Linked DNA regions of Homo sapiens. The protein of the gene in region 2 purifies or fractionates together with the protein of the main gene of each other region. This does not show direct contact. Each region holds a gene or a part of one and is shown on either strand. Other genes may lie near its edges.

Region 1 (7,145 bases), on a different chromosome or scaffold from region 2:
CTAAAAATACAAAAAGTAGTCGGGTGTGGTGTCAGATGCCTGTAATTCCAGCTACTCGTTAGGCTGAGGCTGGAGAATCGCTTGAACCCGGGAGGCACAGGTTGCAGTGAGCCGAGATCACCCCACTGTACTCCAGCCTGGGTCACAGAGCAAGACTCCATCTCAAAAAACAAAACAAAAAAAAAAAAAAAAAAGAAGAAGAAGAAAAGGAAAAAAAAAAAAAAGAGAAGAAGGATAATTCATGTAATTCATGAAGGCCTCCCTAGCCCCTGCCTGCTGCTTCCTCTTCCCTTTGGCCAAGCAGGAGCAGGGGACCCAGGCATCCTGCTGGGGCCCTGGTGAGCCTCGTAGGAGCTGCCCCAGGCTCCGGCTTGGGTGCATGCGGGCAGGAGCCAGGGCCTGGCAGAGCTGCTCACCTGTAGGGGCCGGGTCCTGGTAGGGGATGGTTGCAGCCAATTTTTGTTGGTTGGCAGTGGGTATCATTGCCGACGCGGAGGACATGGAGCTGGCCTCTGGTCTGGTACAGCACCCGGTTGGCCCTCAGTGTGAGATAGTAGCCCCTCTGGGAGAAGTTGGCAGGAGCAGGGATGTCCTGGTTTGTCCGTGGGGCCGTGAAGCTCTGGGTGGCTAAGGGTGGCACCATGGTCAGACAGGTCACACAGCAGGATCCCACCCTCACCTTACCAAGCCTGACAGCCCTCCCCGGCCCCATCCCCTGCAGCACCTGCTCCCTGCATCTCCCTGCAACACACCCGCTACTGCCCTTAGGCCCGCAGGCCCATTTCACATAGGGAAAACCGAAGCCTGGCCCCAGCAGCACCCACCGTTGCTGAGGGCCACCACCAGCCAGATGGTATCCAAGTCAGAGATGTTGTGGCTGCTGAACTGGCCTAGAGGCTGCTCCAGCGTGAAGGTGGACAGGGTGAGCCTCCCCGCCAAGGTGTCGTTTGAGAGCTGGGGCACATAGCTGATGTGCTCTGGGGCAGCTGGAAGGGGAGGGCAGAGAGGAGAGTCCAAATGGGGCAACCAAGCCCCAACAGCTCTGGTCTCCCCCCGCCCAGATCCAGACTTAACATGGGAGCCCCAAGTTACGGGCACTTCCTGGGAGGTCAGGTCCGGTATGAACCAGGAAGCTTTCCCGGCAACTCTATGCCCCATGGGCATGGGTGGGAGGCCTGAGTCCAGCCCCTGGCCCCTCTCTTAGGAGCCTACTGGGGGTGGGCACTGTGGGAGGTCTAGGACAATGGTGGCATGGGAGGTCCCACCCTGGCGGTAGGCACAGTTCTCCTGGGCCGGGCCATGTTGGGATGGAACTGGAATTTGGGGGCAGCCTGACCCTAGGCTGAACTCTGTTCCTGACATGCCCAGTGACCTCCAACTTAAGTCCCTCCAGCTCCACCCACATGGTCTAGGTTGTTTTGCTTGATGAGAGGATGCGTGGCTTGGCAGGGGTCGGGGGGATGGCACAGGAAGGTCCTCTTGGCTGAGACCCCAGGCTGGGACACAGACTGCCCAGAGGGTCCGGGGGCTCTGGAGCCAGAGCTTGGTTCCGAGTGAGTCTAGAACGTCCTCTTCAACCTGCCTGGTTCTCTGCCGCCTCCCAACATGGCCCCGAGGCATCTTCGCCTTCAGGACCAGGTCCCCCTCTCAGACTCCCACCTCATCTCTCTGGGGAAGGGTGGGGGACGAGGACAAGCTTCCCAGGTCTGTACCCCAAAGGGGACTCAGGATTGGCAACTTGGCCTGTGTCCAGCCTTGCTGGTTGGAGAGCTCAGACCTCCCCAACCCCAAATACTGGTCTAGGAGAAGCAGAACGATGGAGTGGGTTTCTATGTGAGTCTCCAGCAGCTGCCCCTGTTCAGTTCAGTTCAGTTCAACTTCATTCATTTACGTTGAATTCAACTCAACTCCAAAGGTTCAGGCTAGAGTCTTCCTTGGGGAAGGATTGTCACGATTCCTTTCTTACAGCTCTCAGTCCTATCTCTGAAGCCCAGGGCACTCTGCGTGCAGGAGGCACGTAATGTTTAGAAAGAGAAGTGGAGGCCGGGCGCGGTGGCTCACGTCTGTAATCCCAGCACTTTGGGAGACTAAGGCGGGCATATCACGAGGTCAGGAGTTCGAGACCAGACTGGCCAATATGGTGAAACCCTGTTTCTACTAAAAATACAAAAATTAGCCAGACATAGTGGCGCACGGCTGTAATCTCAGCTACTCAGGAGGCTGAGGCAGGAGAATTGCTTGAACCCGAGAGGCGGAGGTTGTGGTGAGCTGAGATCGCGCCACTGTACTCCAGCCTGGGTGACAGTGGGAGACTCTGTCTCGAAAAAAAAAAAAAAAGAAAGAAAAAAAAGAAAAAGAAAAAGAAAAAGAGAAGCGGAGCAGTCAGAGATTGGGGTTGGGGGCAGAGATTGTAGGACTGTATCTCTCAGCCTGTCCAGTTTTTCTTTTCTTTTCTTTTTTGAGACAGGGTCTTGCTGTTTGGCCCAGGCTGGAGTGCAGTGGCGCATTCATAGTTCACTGCATGGGCTCAAGCCATCCTCCCGCCTCAGTCTCCCAAGTAGCTGGGATTACAGGTGCACTCCACCACACCCAGCTAATTAAAAACAAAAATCTTAAAAAAAAAAATCTTTTTGAAAAAAGGGGTCTTGTTATGTTGCCCAGGCTGGGCTTACCAGAGCTTCCTGGGGACATGCATTGTCCTGGACATCTGGAAACCTCTCCTCAGGGAAAGGAAGGAGGCAGGAGCCATGTGTGAGAATTTGGAAACAAAGTGAGGTCTTGGGTTTGTCCTGCAGCCTGAGATGCAGCGGGTACCCCTGTGCCAATCCCCACCCTTACTCACCCACGTCTGTCCCAGGCTGGACACGGGTCAGTAGCAGCAACAGCGACACTAGCAGCTGGGACTGTCCCGCAGAGAGCCCTATGGCCGGGCCAAGCCTCCAGCTGTTGTCCATCTGTCTGTCCGTCCGTCTGCAGTGTCTGCAGCCCCAGAGGCTCCCCTGTCTGTAGTCTGTGCTGTGCTAGGGGAAGCTGTTCCTGGCATCTCCTGCTGCCCCTCCCAGCTACCCCCTCCTCTCAAACAACTGGTTGGACAGGTTTGGGGGCAGAATCTGCCAGCCCAGTGAATCTGGCATCGCCAGGGAGGGGTCTGAAGAGAACATACAGTTGCAAGACAAGCCTGGACTACCCCCCCCACCCACCAGGAGCGCCTGACCAGGGAGGGGCTGAGGAAGGAGGCGGGGCAGCCTCAGGATCCAGGCTGCCCCAGGGACAATCCCGCTAAGTCTACCCCGTGGATCTCCTTGTCCAAACAGTCCCCAATGTAGCGACTCTTCCTTTAGGACCTGAGGTGGGAGGATCACTCGAGCCTGGGAGGTTGAGGCTGCAGTGAGCCAAGATGGCACCACTGCACTCCAGCCTGGATGACAGAGTGGGACCCTGCCTCAAAAAAAAAAAACAAAAAACAAAAAACAAAAAACCAACCTAGGAGGAGTTGGTGTCTGTTTTTGGTTCATAGGGAGTGCCGCTCAAGCAAACTCCCTGGAGTCTCTTTTATTTATTATTATTTTTTTTTGGGGGGGGCAGGGTCTCACTCTTTCGCCCAGGCTGGAGTGCAGTGGTGCGATCATAGCTCACTGTGGCCTTGACCTCCCAGGCTCAAGGTTCTCAGATTCTCAGGCCCCACCCTGGGGAAGGATGGAGGATGAGGACAAGCTTCCCAGGTCCACATGACAGAGGGACTCAGGATTGGCAATTTGGCCTGTGTCCAGCTTTGCTGCTCAGAGAGCTCAGATCCCCACCCTCAATTCACTCCCTTGTGTGGAAGGGAGTGACCCTCACTTTCTAGCACACACAGGGAAGAGGGCTTGGCTAAGAGCACCCAGGAGGTCAGGGCAGGACTGGGGATTAGATCACACCCAAATGCATCTCTGTGGCACTCCTGGTATAGCCCTGCTGTCCCCCTGTAGCCTGGCCCTGGGAGGGGGGCTCCCAGACTTCACACCCCCTCACCTCTTTATCCAGGGGACCGGCTGTCTCTTCCTCCTTCATCCCCAGCCTCTGTCAGGGCAGGGTAGTTCCTCCTCGAGACAGAAAATTACCAGATGGAAGTCCAGGCATGGTGGCTCACGCCTGTAATCCCAGCATTTTGAGAGGCCGAGGTGGGTGGATCACCTGAGGTCAGGAGTTCGAGACCAGCCTGGCCAACACGGCGAAACCCCATCTCTACTAAAAATACAAAATTAGCTGGACGTGGTGGCTTGTTCTTGTAACTCCAGCTACGCAGGAGGCTGAGGCAGGAGAACCACTTGAACCCAGGAGGCAGAGGTTGCAATGAGCCGAGATCGCACCACTGCATTCCAGCCTGGGCAACAAGAGTGAAACTCCCCCTCAAAAAAAAAAAAAAAAAAAAAAGATGAGATGGGGCTCAGGGCAGGTGGAGCGAGACCTGTGACCACCTCTCCCCTGGATCGGGGTGCTAGCCCCCGTCAGCCTGACCTTCACGCTCTAATTATGCCAGATGTCTTCATTCTGGGAAACCCAACAGATTATCACCTGTGGGCCCCATTTTTGGATGAAGAGGGACCATTCCCTGAAGGGGACATACCTCAGTTCCCCGAGGGGATTCAGATGTTCACCTCAACTCACAAGAAAAACTTCTGGCCGGGCGCAGTGGTTCACACCTGTAATCCCAGCACTTTGGGTGGCCAAGGTGGGCGGATCATCTGAGGTCAGAAGTTTGAGACCAGCCTGACCAATGTGGAAAAACCCCGTCTCTACTAAAGATACAAAATTAGCCAGTCGTGGTGGCACGCGCCTGTAATTCCAGCTACTCGGGAGGTTGAGGCACAAGAATCGCTTGGACCCAGGATGGGGAGGCCGTAGTGAGCCGAGATCACACCACTGCACTCCAGCCTGGGTGACAAAGTGAGACTCCATCTTAAAAAAAAAAGAACAAGAACAAAAACAAAAACTAGGAAGAGTTGGTGTCTGTTTTTGGTTCGTAGAGAGTGCCTTCTAGCTGTGTCCTCATATGGTGGAAGGGTCAAGGAAGCTCTCTGGGGTCTCTTTTATTTATTATATTATTATTATTTTTTGAGACGGGTCTCACTCTGTTGCCCAGGCTGGAGTGCAGTGGTGTGATCATAGCTCACTGCAGCCTTGACCTCCCAGGATCAAGTGATCCTCCCACTTCAGCCTCCCTAGTAGCTGAGACTGCAGGTATAAGGCACCATGCCCAGCTAATTTTTTGTTTGTTTGTTTGTTTGTTTTGAGACAGAGTCTCACTGTCGTTCAGGCTGGAGTGCAATGGCACGATCTCGGCTCACTGCAACCTCCACCTCCTGGGTTCAAGTGATTCTCCTGCCTCAGCCTGCTGCGTAGCTGGGATTACTGGCGTGCACAACCACTCCTGGTTAATTTTTGTATTTTTGGTAGAGACGGGGTTCGCCATGTTGGCCAGGCTGGTCTTGAACCCCTGACCTCATGTGATCTGCCTGCCTCGGCCTCCCAAAGTGCTGAAATTACAGGCGTGAGCCACTGTGTCCGGCTGCCCAGCTAATTTTTTAACTTTTTGTAGAAAGAGAGTCTTACTGTGTTGCCCAGGCTGGTCTCAAATTCCTGGGCTCAAGTGATCCTCCCACCTCAGCCTCCTGAAGTTCTGGGATTCCAGGTGTGAGCCACCATGTCCGGCCTGTATAATACAATTTTTCCCTCTCTCACTCCCTTTCAAAAGGCAGTTGAAAGCAGACATCAGAATGTGGGAAGGGCTTGTTTCCCCTTTTTGAAAACACGTTCTTGCTCATCGACTCATCCTCTCCTTGGGTCCCCAGAGATGGGCAGGGCAGGTGTTATGACTAATCTCATTATATGGATGAGAAGAAACCTGGGGCCCAGCAGGGAAAGAAACTTCCTGCAGTCCCAGGGCAGGTCAGCGGCAGGGCTGGGACCCAACCCCAGGTCTCCTGTACCCAGGCAGGACTCCCTCTTTGCCTTTTTTTTTAAAATTTAATTAATTAATTTGAGTTGGAGTCTCGGTCTGTCACCCAGGCTGGAGTGCAGTGGCACAATCTCAGCTCACTGCAGCTTCTGCCTCTGGGGTTCCAGTGATTCTCCTGTCTCAACCTCCCAGGTAGCTGAGATTACGGGCACACGCCACCACGCCTGGCCAACTTTAGTATTTTTAGTAAAGACAGGGTTTCACCATGTTGGCCAGGCTGGTCTCAAACTCCTGACTTCAGGTGATCCACCTGCCTCGGCCTCCCAAAGTGCTGGGATTACAGGTGTGAGCCACTGCACCCAGCCTGTCACCTTTTTTTTTTTTTTTTTGAGACTGAGTCTCCCTTTGTCACCCAGGCTGCCATGCAGTGGTGCCATCATAGCTCACTGCAATCTGTCTCCTGGGCTCAAACAATGATCCCGCCTCAGCCTCCTGAATAGCAGAGACGACAGGTGTGCACCACCATGCCTGGCTCATTTTTAAATTTTTTGTAGAGATGTGGTCTCACTATGTTGCCCAGGCTGGTCTCGAACTCCTGGGCTCAAGTGATCCTCCCACCTTGGCTTCCCAAAATGCTGGGATTACAGGTGTGAGCCACTGCACCCGCCCTTGAATGGATTTTAAAAACCCACCTAGGCTGGGCGTGGTGGTGCATGTTTGTAGTTCCAGTACTTTGAGAGGCTGAGGCCGGAGGATCATATGAGGCCAGGAGTTTAAGGTTGCAGTGAACCATGATCATACCACTGCACTCCAGCCTAGGCGACGGAGTGAGACCCTGTCTCTAAACTAATAATAATTTTTGAAAGTGTTAAAATCCACCTAGAATTTATTTTTGGTGTGATGTGTGATTCAAATTATTTTTTTCTCAAGTTAGCCCGTTATTCAAACACTAAAATATTGAAAAATGCATCCTAAGCCGGGTGCAGTGGCTCACACCAGCACTTTGGGAGGCCAACGCAGGCGGATCACCCGAGGTTGGGAGTTCAAGACCAGCCTGACCAACATGGAGAATAATAATAAGCCGAGATCGCACCATTGTACTCCAGCCTGGGCAGCGAGAGTGAAACTCCATCTCAAAAAGAAAGAGAGAAAGAGAGAGAGAGAGATAAAGGAAGGGAGGAAAGAAAAAGAAAGAAAGGAAAGAAAG
Region 2 (7,948 bases):
CCCGCCTTGGCCTCCCAAAGTCCTGGGATTACAGGAGTGAGCCACTGCACCTGGCACCTGCAGGAAAATCTGTGTGTGTCCCCTGCCCCCAAAGCCCTCTGGGCTGGAAGGCTTGGCAAGGTTTCAGGTTTGTGCTGCGGTGCTTCGTCCTTATTCCTGGCTCTTCCAGAGGCTGGTGGCTCTTAGGGCTCAGCAGGGCTGCTGCCTGGGACAGGGAGACCAGGGGACCCAGGAAGCCCTGGCTCAGAGGAACTGCATTCTGCCCGCAACAAAGACGGAGTCAAACAAGAACTCCGGAGTTTGCAGAAGTGTTTCCCTTTAAGGAAACGCTTCTATCCTGTGCAGCAACCTAGGTTTAGGGTCCAACTGTCTCCAAAGGACCACTTGAGAAGCAAGAAGGAGCCTGGTGAGGCTGCTCCCAGTGCCCTGCGGCCAGCAGTCCACACAGCCGGAGAGCCCATCTCTGAGCTGGGCGCCCCATGGCAAAGCACCCCCTGAACTTACCAGCTCGAAGGCTGCTGAAGAGCAGGAAGAGCAGTCCAGGACTGGAAAAAACAACCAGAAAGGCAGGTGAGGCGGGGCCACCAGGGAGTTACCTGTATCTTCCAAACAGGAACAGGCTGGTTCCCATGAGCAGGAGGTAGTTAAGCCCATCACAGAAATGTGAAGGCAGAGCCAGGAGCCTGCCTGCCTCTGTTCTCCATGGGAATTCGGGGTCCGGGGCCAGGACCACCACCCTCCTGCCCAGCACAGCAAGTCCGAGGGGCTGGCAGCCTCTCACCACTCTCTAGCTCTCGCGGTAACAAATCCCCAGAAACACAGTGATGCTGGCGTGAGGATGAAGGGGAGCGAGGGACGCCAGTGAGGCTGGTCTAGCCTTCCTGGGGACAGATGCCAAGAAGTTGTAGGAAATCAGAAAAAAAAAAAAAAAAAAAAGCTTTCAGGGCACATATAGTAGGAGTGTCACTTAAAATGCTGGGGAGACGGAGAACATCAGGCGTGCCCGTGACAGGGTCAGGTGAGTGACGGGACAGCCCTGTGCGGAACGCGGATCATTTTGAAACCAAACCTGAGCTCCTCCTGTTTCAGATCCTGCTGCAGCTGGTGCCCCTGCCTCGGGCAGCAAATTCCCCTCGTGACTCCAATGCCCCTGCCATCTTGGGTCTGGGAGCCTTTGCACCCTGCACGCCACAGGCTCGCCACCTCCTCCCGCCAGCCCCCAGGATGCCTTCCCCACGTGGGGGCCCTTAGTGGCCGGGACCACTTTGGTAGCAGTGCTTACCCCAGCCCCCCAAACCATCAGTTTCTGGGGCCAGCTCCCCATGAAGCAAGAGCCCCAGGAGCAGGGACATCTCCTTCTCTGATGTCCCTGCACCTCCAAGGTCTGGGAGACGCTCATCCCTCTTCTCTGTGGCCTCTGCCTGGGAAAGCTTGGGGGCTTTGTAAGTCAAAGGTTGGTCTTGTGGGAACCTCCCAGTGGGCTGTCCCTGAGCCCTGGAGCCACAGAAACCCCTGCCCCACCCACGATGGCTGTCATCTGAGTCTGCATGGAGGTGTGTCTGTGCCAAGTGAGCACACATGCACCAAGGCGGCCCCTGGCCACCAGGGGCTCTTGAAGTCTGCAGGCGGCCCTTCCTCTCTCTCCCACTCCCCCTGTTGGGGCCACCATTCTGGCTGGCAAGATGGCTGTGATGGCCTCCAGCAGGCCCCCTGCCTCCACCCTTAGCCCCTTCAAGCATTTCCCCAGAGCCACCATCTAAACGACAGCTGTGAGAACTCCTCTGTGCCCCCATTTGTCTCCCACAGTGCCCATATTCATCACCAGCCCACAAGGCCCCTCCTGTCTATGGAGGCCTCCTCAGGACATCTGGGGGCTTCCTGGGCCAGGGTGGGGGGTGCCTGCTCCAGGCTGTTTCTGGCTTGTCCCCTCCCTGGGTGCTGCCTAAGCAGCGGCCTCTGTGTCCTTTCCTTGGACCCTCAGCACCCCTGCATCTAACCTACCCCCACCCCGAGCTTGCCTCAAGACCCAGCATGGACAGGGCCGCCTACCTGAAGGTGTGGGTGGCGGAGGGCTAAGACATTTGGGAGGGCTATGACATTCCGGGACCTTTAAATTCTTTCTCTCTAGGGCAGGATCATAACTGCATACACTTCTAATGGGGAGGGGACCTGGGGAGTGTGACTCCGGTGTGGCCCAGCTCTGAGCTGTGCGGGAGGCATCCCTGGGGTCAGGGGCCTCACAGGTTCACCCAGGGGAGCACAGGCTGCGGACCCTACAACGTGGGTTGCGAAGAGTATATTTTGGATATTTTCGCAAAAATCCAGGAGGAAGCTGTCACTCCTGGTTCAGGCAGCCCCGCCTTCCCCAGTGTGGATCGGCTGCCGGGCTGCGGGGAATCCCACGTGTGTGGGGGAGGGCGTGTCCGCAGACCGTGGGCACCAGCTGGCCTTGGAGAGCGCTCGGCCGGTCACCTCCCTCCTTCTCCCTTCTTCTAGGAAATCAGCAGTGCCAGGGAGTGGAAGGGGCAGCGCCCGTGCCCCGGCGTGCAGGGTGCGCCCGCCTTCCCTCCCTCCTTCCAGCGTTCGCGGTCCTCCTTCCCTGGCAGGGACCCCGCCCCCGAGCCCGCCCCCGCACGGCTGTGCGTCCTGCCATGGGTCCCGGTGCCAGGCCCCGCCGCCCACTGCCGTCCACGCCCCGCCGGCCGCCCCGGCGCCTCCGCCGCCCGCTCCTCGGACCCGCACTGCCAGCCCGGCACCTCCAGGCGAGCCCCGCAGGCCCCGCGTCCGAGCCGAGCTGGGGACGCGCGGGCCGAGCCACCCCGCCCCTGACCGCGGCGCCTCCGCTCCTTCCCCGGCTCACCTGCCCAGCCGCATGGTGCGGGCGGAGACCTCGGGCCGCGGAGACCTCGGGGCGCGGAGACCTCGGGGCGCGGAGAACTTGGGCCGCGGGAGACCTCGGAGAGGAGCAACCTCGGGGCGCGGGAGATCGGCTCTAACTGCGCTCCCGCCGCGCCCGAGGCTCTGAGCGCCCAGCGCGCGGTGTGCTGGAGGCAGCCGTGTCCCCGCCCCGTCCCCGCCCCGCCCCCGGCCTGGCTCCTCTGGCGACCGAGACCGCCCCGGGACAGGAGGCGGGGCGCTGCGCGGCGGCTCCGGAAAGTTCGGCTCTGCCCAGGCGTGTGCCCGTCGGCCGGAGGCGGGACAGAGGCAGGTCGGCCTGTCCGCCTGGACGCGGACCTGGGCGCCGTAGGTGCCCTGGGAAGCGCAGGGGTGGGGGGTACCCGGCAGGAAGGTGGCCAGGGGTGCTGCGGGTGCCGGCGCAGCGAGGGAGGGCACCGTGGGAGGCAAGGGCCGTTCCCCGCGCCGCGCACAATGCGCCGGTCCTGCGGCCCTCCCCGAGCAGGAGTCCGGGGACCCAGGCCCCAAGGCTGGGAGAGCGCCAGGCCCCTGGCCGGCTGCGCTCCGATGATCTCCAGGACTTAAGGCGAGTGAGCTCAGCGACTGCTGAGGAATGAATGACTGAATGAACGCATGCATGAATGGAAGGAGGGAGGGAAAGTGGGCGGGCTCTACCCTCTGGGCCAGCCCCAGCCCGCCCCCACCTAGCCTTGCTCCCCTAGCCTTCTAGGGGTGTGAAGGGCGCTGGCGCAGCCTCTTTGCTTAACACTGGCTCTGAGGATCCCCCGCCGAGAAACCGAGGCAGGCTTGCGGCTCTGGGCTCGTCAGCCTTGGCAGTGGCGTCTGGCCTGGAGTCTGGGGCAGCTGGTTTGGGAAAGGCTGCACCACGCAACCGAGGGTGGGACCCAGAGTCCCTGCTCCTTCCCCACCGCACCCAGCCCACCCCGCCCTCCCTCCCTGATCCCTGCAAGCCAGGTGAGGCCCAGGGGGGACGTGACTCCCTTTCTGCAGAGGCACCTCCGGAAGGGCCTGGGTGAGGCTGCTAGACAGGGCAGCGGGGCACCCTCCTCCCGGAGCCCCCGCCTCTGGGCTGAGGCTCGGATCCCCACCGCCTCCTGCGCATGGAGGAGGCGAGAAGCGCAGGGAGACGGGGGCCCCAGACGGCACCCCGCAGGCTGCCATTCCTTCAACCAAGATGTAGAGAACGCCGTGGACAAAAGCTTTAAAAAAATTCTGAAACCTCTGCCCGTGGGAAGTCAACATTTTTGCGGAGCAGAGAGCCCAGGCACAAAATAAGAAGGCGGAAGAGACGGGCTGGGGGGATAGGGGGGACGGCGGCGGGGAAGGGCAGGGAGGGCGGCGGCGAAGGCGCAGGAAGCCCTGAAGCCGGGCGGCTTCCCCCTCCCAGGCCACGCTGAGAGACGGGGGTTGGGGGGATTTAAAATCGCGCGCCTGGCAGGGGCGGGGCGGGGGCCACCTGCCCTCCGGCGGGAAGAGCTGGGCAGGGCCCGCGGAGTGCAGGGCGGAGGCACTGGCGGTCCGCACCCGGGTGAGGTGAGGCGCGTAACCGCATCTGAGCCGGACTCTTTAGGACGAGTCCCGTCCCTGGAGTCAGAAAACCCGGTCCAGCGCCAGCGTGGACGTGCGCTTCCCGGGACACGCCCAGGGACGCCGGCTAGGACCGGCGAGGCTGGAGGGGTGGCGATGTTGGGGGCTGAGGTTCCTCGCCCCGGGGCGGGCGGCTGCTGGTAAGGGACCGCATGGCCCCGCAGGTGAGGAGGGCGCAGGTGAGGAGGGCGCAGGTGAGCCGGGCGGGCTGCGGGCAGCGCCACCTCCTCCCGGAGGCCCTCCCTGATTGACCGGCCGGGAACCGCGCGCCTCTGGGCCTGCGGCTGAGGTCCGGGGCTGCGCCGCGCCGATGAGCTGACGCCGGGCCGAGCGCTCCACCCCCAGGGCCGGGCGCACCTGAATCCCCTCCACCCGCGGGACTGCGGAGAGGGGGACGGCCCCCGGATACCGCGTGGGGGCTTTGGGAGGATGGGGAATGGGTCCTGGGGGAGCAGAGCCTCCCAAATTAAGGCCTCCCAAGAGCGCGGCCGGTCATCCGCGGCGGCGAAGGGAAGGTGCCCTGTCGGTGCGTCCGGACCCCGCAGCCCCCCAGTGCCGCCCGGGGGCGGTGGGAGAGGGGCCGACACCGCAGGGCCCGCCGTGCTGTGGCCGAGGGGGCAGGTCCAGGCTCTGCTTCCCGGGCAGACGCCGGAGACCCCAGCAAGCCAAGTGCTGCGGGCAGCCCCCCCCCCGCCCCCCCGAGAGAGGGGACGCCGCGTGGAGGCCACAGCCAGGCAGGGGCAGGAAGGCAGCTGGGCCAGAAGGGGACACTGAGGCAGGCCGAGGCGGCCGCGGGGGAGGGTGCCAGGACCAGCCCAGGAACCTCGGAGACCACGGTAAGCGGTGGCTGGTTCAGATCCCAACTCCGGAGCTGTGTGACCCCAGAAAGTTCCTTAGCCCCTTGGTGCCTGCATCCCCTGACGTGTGACATATACATGAATGGGGCTGTTGTAAGTGAACGCACACAGCACACCGGCACATGTGTCACAACACTTAGATGGGTTTAGATGAAGAAACAGGGAAACCTTTGGGAAGTTTCCTGTAGTCAAAGGAAGGTTTTCGTTTTCCCCCTCAACCGTGACTGTTTCTTGGGCCGGCAGGATAGGCTTTTGTTCTAGGGGTGTGGAGAGAGGGCCCCTTGGCAGCGTCCAGGGCCAACTGGGAACCAAGCAGGAATCGTATTTGTGCAGCCTGGAGTTCGAGGCTCTGGGTGCGAGTCGTAGTGCTTAAGCAGGAAGCAGCTGCCTGATGCCCCTAGCCCCAGGCCGCCCTGCTCTGCCGTTTCGAGGGCGTGGGGGTCTTCTGATCTCCACCTTGATGCACCTCCAGGCCCGGGTCCTTTTGGGGTCTGGCACAGCAACCTGCGTTTGACAGCATGGGCGTCCGCTGATGCTGAGAGCTCAACTTCTGGTCCAAGGAAGATCTTTTCTCTTCGGGGAACAGTCATACATTGTTTAACGAAAAGGATACATTCCTTCTGAGAAATGCGTCCTTAGGTGATTTTGTCCTTGTGTGAACACAGAGTGCACACACTGGCCCTGGTGGCACAGCCTGCTACACGCCGAGGCTGTGTGTCACAGCCTGCTGCTCCAGGGCCACGAGCCTACGCGGCAGGTGACTGTGCTGAATAGCGTAGGCAGCTGTGACTCACTGGTATTTGTGTATCTAAAGCCATCTAAACATAGAACAGGTGCAGTAAAAATACCGCGCTGTGATATGGGAGCACTGTGGCATTGCTTGTTGACCGAAGGTTATGTGGTGCATGACTGTATGTTCGTTTCCTGTGGGCGCTGGAACTAACGACCTCACGCTTGCTGGCTCAAAACAACAGCAGTCTATTCTCTCTCAGCCCTGGAGAGCGGAAGCCTGCCTGGTGGAGGCGCTAGGGGAGTATCCTACCTGCCTCTCCCAGCTCTGGGTGGCCCAGGCATCCCTGTGCTTAGCTCCAGCAGCCGCCTCAGTGGCCATGTGGCTTCTCTGTGTGGTCAAGCCTCACTTTGCCCCTCTCTTATGAGGACCTTTGGGATGACACGTAGAACCCACCTGGATGATCCAGGGAGGCCTTCCACCTCAATTTAATCCCGTCAGCAAAGTCCTTCCTTTGCCACATGAGGTAACATTCACAGGATCCGGGAATGGGGACATGGGCATCCTTTGGAGGGTGGTTCAGCTGAGCATGGGATCATGATACAGGTCCTGTGTATAAAATTCAAATACTTGGCAGGTCGGGCACAGTGGCTCACACCTGTAATTCCAACACTTAGGGAGGCCAAGGTGGGAGGATCACTTGAGCCCAGGAGTTTGAGACCAGCCTGGGCAACAGAGCAAGACCCCATCTCTACAAATAATTTTTAAAAATTAGCAGCGCATGGTAGCATGCACCTGTAGTCCCAGCTACTCCAGAGGCTGAGGCTGGAGGATCTCTTGAGCCCAGGAGACGGAGGCTGCAGTGAGCTATGGTTGTGCCACTGCACTCCAGCCTGGGGGACTAGCTAGACCCTGTCTCAAAAAATAAAAATTTAAAATAAAATACATAGAGAATCTCAAGGTGGTGTGGACAGTTCTGAGTGTTGGGGAGAGAACAAAAGAAGGAAAGTGCATTTTGGGTGGCAGAAAGCCCCTAACAGAGCCTTGGGCCCCTGCTTTGAAGCAGCCCTCACAGAAACTGACCACGAGTTATGTTGGGCCCATGACACTGGTTCCCTGGGTGGACACAGCCTGAGCCCAGCCCGCCCTGTCTGGAGCTCTCACCACCCTGCCTGGCCCGTGCCCATGGGCTCACAATGGCTTCAACCCCATTTATGTGTCAGCTCAAGCAGGCCTCCCCAGAGGGCTCATTTGCACTTGGATGCCCTCACCTGTGCTCCCTCTGTGGCTTCAGGAACCCCGGGGTCATTACAGAGCTTGCTAAATTCATCCCTGGACGTGAGATGTGTGTCGTAAGCATCCAGGACTGTCCCAAGATGGGAGAGGCGTTCAGTCATGTTCACTCAAGTGAAGGCTTCTATTCTACTTCCAGATACACCTTTTTAACCTTCAAAGGGTCCAATTTTAACCTTTCTTCCACAAAGCATTTTACGTACCACTAATAGTCCCAGTGCAGACCCCAAAGTTCCCCTGTAAGATTCATTTCCTGTGATTCGAGCACAGCCTGAGGCAGAGCTTTCTGCTGGGTTTATCCTCACTGAGACTCAGACTGCAGAGGGCCAGGAGGAGCCCTGCTTTTTGCAAGCAATACCACCTGGGGTAGGACCCACAAGTGACATCCTTTGTGCGTGGATCTGGCCTTGGCCTCCGCACCGTCTGTTCAGCAAGTCCCTCCTTTGCCTGCCAAGGCTGAGGTCCTGTACTTTTGTGTGTGGATCTGGCCTTGGCCTCCGCACCGTCTGTTCAGCAGGTCCCTCCTTTGTCTGCCAAGGCTGAGGTCCTGTACTTTTGCAAAGGT
Region 3 (7,151 bases), on a different chromosome or scaffold from region 2:
GCAAAAGGGCTTCCCAGCCTGAAAACCAGAACCCTTCAAAGGAGGAGTGGCACAAAGAGCCCAGCCTCCGGGGGGCACGTTTCTGGTCATTAAACGTGGGGTGGTGCCTGCCTGCCCTGCCCCAATGACTCACGCCGTGAGGGCAACAGATGCAGCTGGCAACGACTGTCCACAGCCACAGAGAACAGGGCAGTTTCATGGGACCCAAGGAGCTCTGGACCACGACCCTTCTCAGGTAGAAAGGCCACATCCGTCACCACAATGCCATGGGCCTCCCTCACGTAGTAGAGGCACTGTGGGCAGAAGGAATACCAGTGAGGAAAGGCCTAGCTGGGAACTCTCTTTCTGGAAAGCATGTTCCCCACCCCCAGGATTTCCCTCGATAGGATGGGCCAGACTCCTTCCTGCAAACTCAGGGTAGAGACAGGCCTACAGTCCACCCACAGGGCCATGCCAACCTCCACCCATTACCTGGAGAGAGAAAGCTATGTAGATGGCAACAGAGCCAGTGACTGTGCCCAGGCCTAGGAAGGTGCCGGATTCACTGCAACAAACAATAAAGAGCTCATTGTCCTGGAGGCTTGTGCAGCAACCCTCATACCCCAATACCGGTCCGTAGGGACCCAGGCAGGACTCCTTTCCAAGCTCCCTCAGGGACCCCCTACCTAGCCAAGGCAGCAATGTCTCACACCTGACATCGAGGCAGGAGACGACTTCATGGCCACAGGACTTGGTCCGAAGGGGCAAGAAGTTGGAGCCATCCCAGGCTGTGAGGTAGCAGGGAGGGGGCTGGCGCAGGCGCTTGTGGGGAATTTGCACTGTGAAGAGTCGCAGGCCAGCAGGCTGGTCTGGAACCTGCCCAAACCTGGGGGCCGGATGAGGGGCTATTCAGCTCCTAGGGCCTGCCCAACCCTCCTCAGAGGTTTGTGCACCACCTGCACCCTGGTCAGACCTGGGGTAACACTCAACAAGTTCCTCCCCAGCTCTCCCATCCCCAGTCTTTTCCCTCTCCCCCACCACAGCTGGGCTATGCCTCTTTCAGCCACCACCCAAAGTCTTCACACCTGCAGGCCTGGTAGCGGTAAGGTGTGCTGGAAAAGGTGGGTCCATTTTCTTGCCAGTGCAGCTGTGTCACCAGCTGATCCTTCTGCCACACAGAGGCCTTAAGGTCCCGGCCCACGGTTACCAACTAGTTAGGAATAAAGATTCCAAGGATGGACAGTTAGGGGATCCACTTACTGGGCAAGCAGCATAAGCACCTCCTCTCTCCTTTCTCCATCCTCCTCCCACCCCCAGCCCCTCACCTTGCCATCAGGCCCTAAAGCCAGGTCTTCAATCTCCCCTTCGTGGGCTTTGAACTCCAGAACCTTCTCCAGGCTGGGCACCTGTAGCCAAACAACCACCATGGTTAACTCAGGTGTCCAGCAAGTACACTGTGACTGATGCCCACGCCACCCCTTCTAATGGCCCCTCAATGCAAGCTTCATTCACAAGTTTCCCAGATGCCACGTTCAACTTCTCACAATTTTGATCCTGTTGCTACTGACATTCACCCTCCCTAACCCTGCAAACCCACACCTTCCAGACACGGACGTAGCCATCTGTTCCTCCAGTGGCAAGCAGGGTATTATCGTGGTTGAAGCACACAACTTTCTGCAGTGGATCGGAGCTAAAGTCTGTCTGCACCGCCTGCAAATTCTCTACCCTGAGTTCTAGCCCCTCGTGCTGGGTTTCCGCTCCACATTTCTTCTCTGCTGGGGCTGCTCCCTTCCTTTGTCGAGGCCCCTGCTCCTTGGAACCTGTAACACAAACACTTGGCCAGGTTCCAGGCTTCTACAGTAAGGAGTACTGGCCCCTCTCTCCATGGCAGGTGCCCATACAACTTCTAGCTTGCTACCAAAACCCTACTTCCAGACCCACTTCTTTAGAGACACCAAGAGTGACCTTACTCGTTCAACCCTTTCCCCAAGGGGGTAGAGAGGGAGCTCCTCACCGGCCTTCTCTGCCTTGTTGCCCTGCTGTTGATGTGCCTGGAAGCGCAGGAGCTGACAGTGGGCATCCTGCCCTGCAGCAAGGATGTCACCAGCCAGTGCCAAGTTCATGGTGGCCCGTGTCTCTGTGTCATGGGAGTGCAGCAAGGAGGCACTCAAGCGCCCATTAATCAGCTCTAGCTGCAGAAAGTGCTGTGGGAGGGGGAACCCGGATGAGCAAGTTCAGGGGTGCCCAGAGAGCACGTTTAGGGAAGAGTCTGATGTCTTACCCCTTTGCTTTCTGCACGTTCTAGTTCACAAGGGTTTCTCGAGTCTTTTTTCTCTCATTTGGGCCTCACAAATCTACACAGTGAGCAGGACTGGGATTATTACCTCTATTTTACAGAACAGGGTGAAGCTCAGGAGAGGGAAGGAACTTAGCCTAAACCCAAATGCACCACTCTCGCCGCTGCTAGAGGGCAGGCAAGACCTCCCGGAAAAGGCCAGTATAAGACCCCTGGAGCTGCTCTGAGGCGGAGCTGAAGCGTTCCTGGCGACTCTGCAGCTGTGTGCAGTTTTCACTTTACCTTAAAAGCCTCTCCTCCGCCCGCTGAGTTCTCGACTGAAATTCGCCCCTGGGCGTCAGGCAAGCGGGTCTTCCCAACAGAAGTGGGCAGGGCCCGAAGCTGGAGTGTGGCCCGCCCCGCGACCCCCCGGCCACCCTGGAATCGCCGCCAGCCCGCAGCAAGACCCAGCCCCAGTGGCCCTGCGCTCTCACCACGCCATTCTTTATGCCTGTCTTGGCGGCGCCTCCTCCGCCCGCAGCGATGAGCAGCCCAGTGCTGGGGTCGACCTGAAGCGCGTACAACGGGAACGGAGCCCGGTACAGCTCTGGCGCCCGGCGCCGGCCCATCCCGCCCGGCGCGCGTTCACTGCCCGCACCGCGGCACCCAGGACATGCCGCGCCGGGCCTTCGACTACTGCCCCGGCGGCTGGTGAACTCGGCCCCGTCGCCGCCGGGAGCACTCCCTACCCCTCTCACACCGGGGAGTTGCCAAAACCCTGACCATCAGCAGGAAGCCGAGCCTCAGCTCGGCTCCGTCCAAGTCGGTCTCGCAGACGCGCACTGCGCATGCGCACCTGTCTCGCGGCTCCCTCCGCGCAGGCGCAGGAGCGCCGACACGCGTCAGCACTAGCCGGCCGCGGGGCCGCGTTTCCCGGGGCGGGGCTTCGGTTCTCCACCCCTGGCGCGGAGGCAGAGTCGCCCAGCACCGACTTCGCCATTTTTGTGCGGGGCGCGGGGCGCGGGCGGAGGAGGTGGAGCCAATGGAGGTTGATGAAGGTCAACCTTTAATAAAGAAATCCGACTCGCGCCTGTAATCCCAGCACTTTGTGAGTCCTAGGCGGGCGGATCAGGAGTTCGAGACCAGCCTGACCAACATGGAGAAACCCCGTCTCTACCAAAAATACAAAGGGCGTGGTGGCGTGCGCCTGTAATCCCAGCTACTCGGGAGCCTGAGGCAGGAGAATCACTTGAACCTGGGAAGTAGAGGTTGCAGTGAGCCGAGATCGCGCCATTGCCATTGCTCTTCAGCCTGGGCAACAAGCAACAAGAGTGAAACTCCGTCTCAAAAAAAAAAAAATCCTCTGCCAGGCACGGTGGTTCATGCCTGTAATCCTCCTGTAATCCCAACACTTTCGGAAAGTCCGAGAGAGGAGGATGGCTTGAGCCCAGGCTTTCGAGACAGCCTGGGCAACATGGGGATCCGTCCCTACGAAATATTTAAAAATTAGCCAAACATCGTGGCACCTGTGGGCCCAGGTGCCCAGGAGGCTCAGGCGGGAGGATCACTTGAGACTGGGAGGTCGAGGCTGCGCTGGACCACCAGTGATGTCACCACTGCACTCCAGCCCCTGGGCAACAGAGCTAGACCCTGTCTCTCACACACATAAAATCCTCAAATAAGGACTGTTCCCATCTGAGGAGTGATATGCCAACTCCTAGGAGCACAGGCCTTTGCATCTTACCTCAGAGAGGAAGTGATTTGCCCGAGGGCACACACCAGAAACCACCGGAGTCTCTTGCTTCTTAACGGAGGCAGCATGAACTTAAAAATAAACCTGACTTCAAATGCTGAATCCATTGCTTCCTCGTATGAGGACACGTCTGTCATCCTTAACGCCTATCGCCCACTTTTGGCAGGGGTGGTGTCTGCCATTCCCTTTCTCAAGGCTTCACACTCCTGGGCTGGTGGCTTGGTGGGTGGCCAGCTGCTTTGCTGGCCTCAGAGGGGGCAGTTTGGCTCCCGGGCAGGTATCTTCTGCGCCTGACACTCCATTCTCCCTCGGGTTTCTGATCTGATGAGGACCTTTGTGCACTCCTGAGAGCGAGCACAAGGGATGTCCTTCCCTGCAAAGAGACGCCCTCTCCTGCATTCTCATTAACCTAAGGTGCACCCAGAGGAATAGCGCAGTGGCTTCATCTTTGGGGATGCCAATATCTGTCCCACAGAGTTGAATTAGATGTGTGAAGGGCCTGGCCAAGCTCTCTGCATATCTCAAGTCCCCAGGCCTTGTGGGTCCCTTGTCCTCCTTGGATACATGGCACCTGCTCTTTCTGGCCTCTCCGTTTCCTTTGACACCACCCTCCAGGGTCTTTTTTATTTTTTGAGACGGAGTCTCGCTCTGTTGCCCAGTCTGGAGTGCAGTGGCCTGATCTCAGCTCACTGCACCCTCCACCTCCCAGGTTGAAGTGATTCTCCTGCCTCAGCCTCCTGAGTAGCTGGAACTACAGGCACCCGCCACCACACCCAGCTAATTTTTGTATTTTTAGTAGAGATGGAGTTTCACCATGTTGGCCAGGCTGGTCTCGTAACTCCTGACCTTAAATGATATGCCCACCTTGGCCTCCCAAAGTGCTGGGATTATAGGCATGAGCAACCACACCATGCCCTCTTTTTTTTTTTTTTTTTTTTGAGATAGGGTCTCTGTCACCCAGGCTGGAGTGCAATGGCATGATATAGCTCATTGCAACCTTGAACTCCTGGACTCAAGTGATCCTCCCACTTTAGCCTCTTGAGTAGCTGGTAGTACAGGCACGCGCCACCATACTCAGCTAATTTTTTTATATTTTTGTTTTTGGAGAGACAGGGTCTTGCTATGTTGCCCAGGCTGGTCTCAAACTCGTGGCTTCAAGTGATCCTCCTACCTCAGCCTTCCAGTGTGTTGGGATTATAGGCATGAACCACCCCCTCCCCGCCACCAAGGGTCTTGTTAGGGACTGGCACCCCTATAGTTACAGCCACCTATTCTGTGGACTCAGCAGGACGCAAACACAAGTTTCACAGGGTCAGACTTTATTAGATACACGGAGGGCTGAATGGGGCCTTGGTGCCCTTGGTCCTCTTCAGCCTGGAGACAGCAGACTCCACAAGGGGCTCCCAGGGTTCAGAGCAGGAGAACACACCTGACCTCCGGCCAGCCAGCCCTTCAGGGTGTCTCGGGGACTCCCCGAGATCTGGGGCCTGGTTGGGAGGGTTGGGTTTGGAGGGGGTGTTCCAGGGGGCCTCCGTGGCTCTGGAACTAGACTGATGACTTTTGGAGAATGAGCTCCAGAGAAACTGGCCTCTTTGGGCCAGGGCAAGGCCTGGGCTTCAGGGAGGTAGTGACCTGTTTTGGTGCCCGAGGTGGAGGCCCGGAGAAACATCGTGGGGAGTTTGGTGATTGAAGGCCTGCAGACCTGAAGCTCCTGGTCTGGGAGGGTGTGCCTGGGACTGGGTCGGCCCGGGCCTGAGCTGCTGGAGGCTGAGATGCTGGCAATTGATGCCCACAGGCCTGAGTAGCCTTGCCCTGAGGCCCTGCTTCCTTCGGCCTTTTCTCGGGCAGCAGATGCAAGGCCCTGGCCTGGCCCTGAGGCAGGCGGAGGCCGAAGCCGATGCCTATCCGGAGTGGCCCAGATTCCTGGCCCTGCACACAGGGCAGTAGTTGAGGGAAAGCAAGCAGCCGGGGTCCAGTCCTGTACCTGGGGAGGGGGCAGGAGGGGCTGCGGGGCCGGAGGCACACCAGGCATATAGGATACTCCACGACTGGGGCCTGGCCGGTTCTGCCTAGCCACAGGTGCTGCAAAAGCAGTAGCCGCAGGTCGTGTGCGATGCGGCGGTGCCCCAGCTGGACCACCAGGGCCTGGGCCAGGGCCCCTGGGTCCCTGAACTGTGCAGGATCCTTCTCGCTTGGCACGCATCTCTCCACCACTCCAGGGGACCCGGACCCAGTGTCCCTGTACTGATGCCAGCGCCATGTCTGCCTGTTAGAGTGGAGCCTATGAGAAGGTGGGCTGGGGCCTGGGGAAGTGAGTGTGGAGCTATGCAGTTCCTCGGGGTGGGAAGGGGACTGGCAAGGTGAGTGGGGAAGGGAGGAGTTCTGAGGCTGGGAGGGAGAAAAGGAAGGGGTCAGAGGGGGAGAGGGGTACAGCCAGTGGTTGGAGGGAGAGGATGCACGTGGACGGGGGAGAGAGAGGTAGTTCTGGTGAAAGAAAGTAGGGGAACTTGGGAGAGAGGGAGAATAGGGATGTGGAGCAAAGTCAGAATTTGAGTCACAAGAGCCGAATTGGAAGCCAGGAGAGGGGGATGCTGGTGGAGGGGAGGAGGGACGACGGGACTGAGTGGAAGAGAACGGTGGTTGAGAGGGAGGGAGGCCCTGATGGGGAGAGAGAGGCTGTAGGTTGTGAGGAGAGGAGTCCACAAGTTGTGAGAAGCCCCAAGTGGGGCGCCCAGGGAGCACTGAGGTCTGTGGCAGCACCTGGTCCTTGTTTTGAGGCAACATCGCCTTGAATCCAGAAGGAACTGGGGCAACAAGACTAGGGATAAGAGACCTGGCAGAGTCAGGACCAGTATCTCTGAGGTCAGCTGTGCCTGAGAAATCAAGGCCACCTTCTGTGCGCAGAGCGTGGCTCCAGCCTGGTGTGGGTGCAGGTGCTGGTGGCAGGCCAAGGGGATACCCAGCCCTCCAGCACCAGGCTCTCAGGGTGTTCAGGCATGAGCATGAATCTAAGCTTGGCTTCTCACTTCTTTGCAGTCAACCATTGATGAGGGATGTGTGGGGATGGAGAATCACAGCTGCATCTTGGGAGTGGAGGGGCAGCAGCGATTATCTGGGTGGGGCAGAGAGGAAGACAAAGCCCAT

Evidence for each region.
Region 1: the proteins of ICOSLG (region 2) and UPK3BL1 purify together in Homo sapiens (affinity purification with mass spectrometry; 2 studies listed by BioGRID and IntAct, with this or other methods). This does not show direct contact.
Region 3: the proteins of ICOSLG (region 2) and PREB purify together in Homo sapiens (affinity purification with mass spectrometry; 2 studies listed by BioGRID and IntAct, with this or other methods). This does not show direct contact.

What each region holds. Positions count from the first base shown.
Region 1 is NC_000007.14:102,639,788-102,646,932, forward strand, and holds the start of UPK3BL1 (uroplakin-3b-like protein 1 precursor), read right to left. Parts: upstream 3,005-7,145; 5' UTR 2,955-3,004; coding exon 2,843-2,954; intron 987-2,842; coding exon 825-986; intron 628-824; coding exon 417-627; intron 1-416.
Region 2 is NC_000021.9:44,237,944-44,245,891, forward strand, and holds the start of ICOSLG (ICOS ligand isoform a precursor), read right to left. Parts: upstream 3,001-7,948; 5' UTR 2,875-3,000; coding exon 2,861-2,874; intron 882-2,860; exon of another isoform or gene 655-881; coding exon of another isoform or gene 597-654; exon of another isoform or gene 546-596; coding exon 505-545; intron 1-504. UniProt on the Homo sapiens protein: Ligand for the T-cell-specific cell surface receptor ICOS. Acts as a costimulatory signal for T-cell proliferation and cytokine secretion. Also induces B-cell proliferation and differentiation into plasma cells.
Region 3 is NC_000002.12:27,131,539-27,138,689, forward strand, and holds the start of PREB (guanine nucleotide-exchange factor SEC12), read right to left. Parts: upstream 3,099-7,151; 5' UTR 2,884-3,098; coding exon 2,749-2,883; intron 2,184-2,748; coding exon 1,994-2,183; intron 1,800-1,993; coding exon 1,579-1,799; intron 1,386-1,578; coding exon 1,305-1,385; intron 1,190-1,304; coding exon 1,065-1,189; intron 866-1,064; coding exon 692-865; exon of another isoform or gene 666-691; intron 545-665; coding exon 472-544; intron 294-471; coding exon 134-293; intron 1-133. Other genes in the region: PRR30 (proline-rich protein 30), read right to left, coding at 5,553-6,791.